Linked DNA regions of Homo sapiens. The protein of the gene in region 2 interacts with the protein of the main gene of each other region in a biochemical or structural test. Each region holds a gene or a part of one and is shown on either strand. Other genes may lie near its edges.

Region 1 (3,752 bases), on a different chromosome or scaffold from region 2:
CCTGACCCAATTCTTTATTTTTATTTTATTTTATTATTTTTATTTTTATTTTTTGAGACAGAGTCTCGCTCTGTTACCCAGGCTGGAGCGCAGTGGTGCGATCTTGGCTCACTGCAAGCTCCGCCTCCCGGGTTCACACCATTCTCCTGCCTCAGCCTCCTGAGTAGCTGGGACTACAGGTGCCCGCCACCACGCCTGGCTAATTTTTAAATATTTTTAGTAGAAACCATGTTAGCCAGGATGGGCTCGATCTCCTGACCTCGTGACCCACCCGCCTCAGCCTCCCAAAACGCTGGGATTATAGGCGTGAGCCACCGGGCCTGGCCCCAATTCTTTATTTTTATCAGTTGGCAAACCAAGTTACTCTGTAGTGTGAATCTGGCTAGCAAAAGTAAGTGCTTTGCTTTCTCTGTGTGTGTGTGTGTGTGTGTCAGCCTTACTCTGTCACCCAGGCTGGAATGCAGTGGTGTGATCTCGGCTCACTGCAGCCTCTGCCTCCTGGGTTCAAGTGATTCTCCTGCCTCAGCCTCCTGAGTAGCTGGGATTACAGATATCCACCACCATGCCTGGCTAATTTTTGCCTTCTTAGTAGAGAGGGGGTTTTGCCATGTTTGCCAGGCTGGTCTCGAACCCTGACATCAAGTGATCCGTCACCCTCGTCCTTCCAAAGCATTGGGATTGCAGGCGTGAGCCACTACTCCCAGCCTTTTATGGTTTGTTTGTTTGTTTGTTTGTTTTTTGAGACAGAGTCTTGCTCTTTTGCCCAGGCTGGAGTACAGTGGTGTGCAACTTCGGCTCACTGCAACCTCTGCCCCTTGGGTTCAAGCAATTCTCCTACCTCAGCCTCCCAAGTAACTGGGATTGCAGACATGTACCACCATGCACCACTAACTTTTGTATTTTTAGTAGAGATTGGGTTTTGCCGTGTTGGTCAGGCTGGTCTCGAATTCCTGACTTCAGCCTCTCATAGTGCTGGCATTACAGGTGTGAGCCAACATGCCCGGCCCACTTTCCACATTTTCGAAGAGTGAAAAGAAAAAGGTATTATCATGGTATCTCTTCCCCTAAAACCACACATGCCCATTAACATCTAGTTTTGTTTTTTTTAATAGTTTTACTTTTTTTTTTTTTTTTTTGAGACAGAGTCTCACTGTGTCACCCAGGCTGGAGTGCAGTGGCGCAGTCTTGGCTCACTGCAACCTCTGCCTCCCGGATTCAAGCAATTCTTCTGCCTCAGCCTCCTGAATAGCTGGGACTACAGGCGCCCACCACCACACACACCTGGCTAATTTTTATTTATTTTTTTATTTTTATTTTTATTTATTTATTTTTTGAGACGGAGTCTTGCACTGTCGCCCAGGCTCCAGTGCAGTGATGCAATCTTGGCTCACTGCAAGCTCCGCCTCCTGGGTTCAAGCAATTCTCCTGCCTCAGCCTCCTGAGTAGCTGGGACTACAGGCACCCGCCACCACGCCCAGCTAATTTTTTTTTTTTTTTTTTAGTAGAGACGGTGTTTCACTATGTTGGCCAGGATGGTCTCAAAGTCCTGACCTCATGATGTGCCTGCCTCGGCCTCCCAAAGTGCTGAGATTACAGGAGTGAGCCATCGCGCCTGGCCTACTCCTGGCTAGTTTTTCATATTTTTAGTAGAGACAGGTTTCACCATGTTGGGTGGGCTAGTCTTGAACTCCTGACCTCGTGATCCGCCTGCCTCAGCCTCCCAAAGTGCTGGGATTACAGGTGTGAGCCACCACGCCCAGCCATAGTTTTACTATTTTTCACCTGTAGTAGTTTGAAGTAATTCTCCCCTATTAAATAGTTTCTCCTGAAGCTTTTTATTCTTCAGAAGGGAGACTCCATTTAGTTACTATGATCAGAGAAAGCAAGTTATGCATTAGTAATTCTTGTTCTGTGAATATTTATCCCCAGTTGTGCTTTACCCATCAGATCTTGATCTCAGTCAAGAACTCATTGCAGGCCAGGTGCGGTGGCTCATGCCTGTAATCCCAGCACTTTGGGAGGCTGAGGTGGGCGGATCACCTGAGGTCAGGAGTTTGAGACCAGCCTGGCCAACACGGAGAAACCCCATCTCTACTAAAAATACAAAATTAGCCAGGCATGGTGGTGTGCGCCTGTTAATTCCAGCTACTTGGGAGTCTGAGACACGAGAATCGCTTGAACTCGGGGGGCGGAGGTTGCAGTGAGCCAAGATTGTGCTATTGCACTTCAGCCTGGGCAACAAGAGGGAAACTCCATCTCAAAAGGAAAAAAACTCAGTCTAGGCAACATGGTGAAACTCCATCTCTACAAAAAATACAAACAATTAGCTGGTGTGGTGGCACGCACCTGTAGTCCCAGCTACTCAGGAGGCTGAGGGAGAATCACCTAAGCCCAGGAAGTCAAGGCTGCAGTGAGCCATGCTCATGCCACTGCACTGTAGCCTGGGCAACGGGAGTGAGATGTGCATTTCCCATTTGTTACTCTTTTTAAACAAGGATAGGAAATCGTCAGAAAGCATACTGTTATCTCTGTCTTCTCTGTTCTTCCTTTCCCACATTCATTAAAAAACAATTATGGCTAATTAACCACTTGAGAATTGTTTTGGCTGCTATAGATTGAAACGTTGCTGCTCCCAAGGTCCAGTGATCCTGTTGCTCTTGTTCCCACAGGCATAGAATGTCAAGCTAACCAGGCGTCCGCTACTTCAGAAGAGTGTACTGTCGCATGGGGAGTCTGTAACGTAAGGAAGCATCTTTACCTGTCAGCATGGCTTGTAAACATATTTCCACTTTTCCTGCTTTGCTAGTCTTGAAAATAACTAGGGAAAAAAATGACTAGTCCACCTTTCTCCCAAAAGGTATACAAATAGTAAAAAAGATTTTAAATCATAATACTATTCACCTGTTACAGGGTAAAAATTACAGTTACTGCAAAGAGGCACTTATTTGTCTTAATTATAAAGTGGACCCAATTTTGTTAGCAGTATTTTGGGGCTTCATCTATGGGAATTGCCTTCAAAACCTACATGCACCCTTTGGAATATTCTCGTGGTAGAACTTTGTACCTTTGAAACAGGCTTTTTTAAAGACCAGGTGTCTAATGGAACTAAGTTTGATGAGTAAATTGAGTGTTGAAGTCTCTGTGTATGTGTGTTTTAAGTGTGGCGTATGTACTGAGATAAGATTATTTTTTAACATGGCTTATGCCAGAAATGTTTTGTGTAGCTTTATTGGACTGAATGGCCTTCCAAGAGTGTGACAGCTGTGAAGGATAACAAATATCAAATATGTTAGTTCTAGCATGTGTTAAAAATTCATTCTTTAAGCTGTAAAGTCCCAGTCACATGAGCTAAAATTGTCTTGTCAGGGCCTCCTGTGTCATGGGGACAGAATACTCACAGTTCCCAGCATGACACAGGGATAAGAGATTCTAGAGTCAGACCACCATTCCCTGTCTTTGTGACTTACTTGCTAAGTGACGTTAGGCAAGGCATTTAACGTCTCCAATCCTGGGTTCCCTCATAAAATGGGGCTGATAGTGGACCACATAAAATTGTAATCCGGATTAGATGATTTATGTTAAAATGTGATTAAACAACTCCCGGCACATAGTAAGCACAAGTGCTTGTTAAAAAAAATCTAAATAGGCCGGACGCGGTGGCTCACGCCTGTAATCCCAGCACTCTGGGAGGCCGAGGCGGGTGCATCATGAGGTCAGCAGATGGAGACATCCTGGCTAACACAGTGAAACCC
Region 2 (2,821 bases):
CAGTATGGTTATTCAAATTAGCCAACTGTAGGACGTTAATGTATTTTAATATTCCAAGTGTAAATGTGGAAATCAATGTACTGTATTACAATTCAAAGTACTAGGAAATTGTCAGGTATCAGAAACGTAATACTTAAACACATTCTCTAAAGCCAAAAACAGCTATAAAAAAATAGCTGTAGAGTCAAAGGATTACTGGTTGTAGTCTGTTACAAGGGAATGCTACGAACAGACTTCTGAAAACGGTTCTCAATCTTCACTATTCATCAGAATCACTTGGAGGGTGTTTTAATATAGGTGACTGGGCTCCATGCCAGTTTGACTCAGGACTGGGATGGGGCCTGACAACTTATATTACAAAGAATTTCCTAAATGATGCTGAGATTGTTATCTCAAGAAACATTTTGAGAACCACCTTATTCATAAACTGTATAAAATTAAAAATCGAGCTCACACACATTAAGCTCAAGTGTGGATTTCATGTTAGCTGGAATTACCGAGTAAGACCAAAGTGTCTTTAAACACAGACTTTAATGGTAACAATTCCTTTAAGCTCAATTAACTTCAGCTATTACAAGTCTTATGCAGATGTCACTATTAGACAATATTTAGTGACTTGCACTGGGTTCCTCATAAAAGACAAATTCACTTAAAAGTGTAATCAACAATCATTAACAGTTTTGTTATGCCAACACAAAACATGGCTGAGTTACCCCCCTCCCCGCCCAAATTACTAACACAGCATGATCAGTACCTTAAGTATACTTCAACTAAGCCATTTCAACAAACAAAAAAAAACAAACAAAAAAAAAAGTGAGTGTTTCACTACCCCTGAGACCACTAGTTAACTGTGGTTCATACTTTAAAATGTGAGTACACCCACACAAGAAAGCAAATTAATCAGTTTTAAAAAATCTGATTATCACATTGCAAACTCGCCCAGGAAAAACAAACTGAGTCATTTAAAATGTAAATTTACCATTAACAGGCCAACTGGACCCTAATTCGGTTTATGCATTAAAAGATTTAGGAAATACAAAGACATAGTCAAAACTGATTCTAATACTCAGTTGGGTCCTATACATGGCACTAGTAATGTCAAATTACTGGGTGGAGTGGGGCAAAGAGGGCAAATTCTTAGATTCTTTTAAGATTTCATTGTACATATCTCATGTCCAGTGTCCATACATTCAAAAATGTTGGTTTTCCAGGTACTTTACTGTTCTTTTAAACCTGGAGAAGCCTCTATGGCTTATTCCCTTAGAAGCAACAAATGAAATGATGTATAAAGCATCAAGTCAAAGATACAGAGAACTGGACACATCCACTAATTGTTATGACAATCAAAGAAGTCATCTCCGTAAATACCTAAGGGTTGTCTAAGGCTATAAAGGTCAATTTGAAAGCCAGTTAGGGATCCACCGTGTTTCATAAAAGTGTCTTACACTCATGTTTGGCTTTCAAGAAGTGATATGCCTACTAAAGCTGTTATTTTGAGACTATATGCATCTCAGAAGTAATTTTGAAAATAGAGCCAAAGAGCAGTTTTTCTTACCTTGTGGAGCAGAATGTTAACTAATTTCTCATTCATAATTTGAATCCAAAAAAGTTATGCAGTATGACATCTACCCTGAAGGAGCCGTTTTAAGCAAAACACAAAATGAAAAAATTCACTCATTGGAAAAACTGCGTAGCTGGTTTTTTCCCCAATGAAATGATTACAGAATTAACAAAGCCAGAACATCTTCAGAAGGCATGCATTTCACTTCCAGTTTAGAGAAGAACCTTAAGTCAATAAATCATGTCCAAACTACATATTAAAATGTTTATAAAAAGTAAGTTTTAACATTTATTTCTAGCTTTCCACATGTGTGTGCAGACAAGGAATAAGATTGCACGTAAGTGTAAGCAGTGCAAAAATGTGGAAGTGGAGGAGTCACAGATGTGCTAGAACTTTAAGAAATAAAGCAGTGAACAAAATCAAAATAAACAGGAAAAATGTAAAACTATGGGATCAGAATTAGGAAAGGTGAAGAATGGTAATGCCCTTGTTACTACAGAAGTTAAATCAGTGGCACAGATAGCACTTGTCAAACAAAAAACAATCCAATAGCATTGACTTTTATTCATTCATGTTAAGTCACCTGAAATGATATCTGTTGCATTTAAATGCTCATTAATGTAAATGGCTGAACAAATCCATTTCAATGGATACTCAATATCCCACATAGATAAGTCACTTCAACACAGCCTCATGACAACTCCCACACCAAAACAGTACTTTATTTTGCAAATTTTGACCCATTATTACTCCCATGTTGTTTTTTTTCAGCTGTCAAGTGTACAAGGTGAAGAGAAATTTCAGTTAGACAGGGGCTGCACCTGGAAAATAAATTTCTTAAACTCCATAAACACATTTCAAAACTGCTGGGTCCCAAAAGTCCATCTATGAACTCTAGGGCTGCCAGTATCATGTGCAGCACATTAAAGCTACACTATCCAAATAGCTTATTAATTCTGCATAAATCAGGTCAAGCAATGTGTCAACCTGTAACAGACTGTGCACTTTAACTGAACATGGCAAAATATTCACTCTTTCGAACTTTACATCATCATTTGATGTCAAACAATGAAGCAAATCCCAACAGTATATACAAAAAACAGCTTTGCATTTACAAAAGATTGTTTCCCATACTGATTAATCCAGGCAGCTAACTCATTGGTTTATGCAACTTTATTGAAGAAAAATAAATCAATTACTAGCAGAGCTATTAGTTGATCACTCATCCATTGACAACTTGCATCATTTATTCAGTGCTAT

What was found. The genes of interacting proteins can lie anywhere in the genome.
Region 1: the proteins of UBE2D3 (region 2) and RBX1 form a complex in vitro, tested with the Homo sapiens proteins (72 studies listed by BioGRID, with this or other methods).

Annotation. Positions count from the first base shown.
Region 1 is NC_000022.11:40,961,378-40,965,129, forward strand, and holds part of RBX1 (E3 ubiquitin-protein ligase RBX1), read left to right. Parts: intron 1-2,669; coding exon 2,670-2,740; intron 2,741-3,752. UniProt on the Homo sapiens protein: E3 ubiquitin ligase component of multiple cullin-RING-based E3 ubiquitin-protein ligase (CRLs) complexes which mediate the ubiquitination and subsequent proteasomal degradation of target proteins, including proteins involved in cell cycle progression, signal transduction, transcription and transcription-coupled nucleotide excision repair.
Region 2 is NC_000004.12:102,793,871-102,796,691, forward strand, and holds the end of UBE2D3 (ubiquitin-conjugating enzyme E2 D3), read right to left. Parts: 3' UTR 513-2,821; downstream 1-512. UniProt on the Homo sapiens protein: Accepts ubiquitin from the E1 complex and catalyzes its covalent attachment to other proteins. In vitro catalyzes 'Lys-11'-, as well as 'Lys-48'-linked polyubiquitination.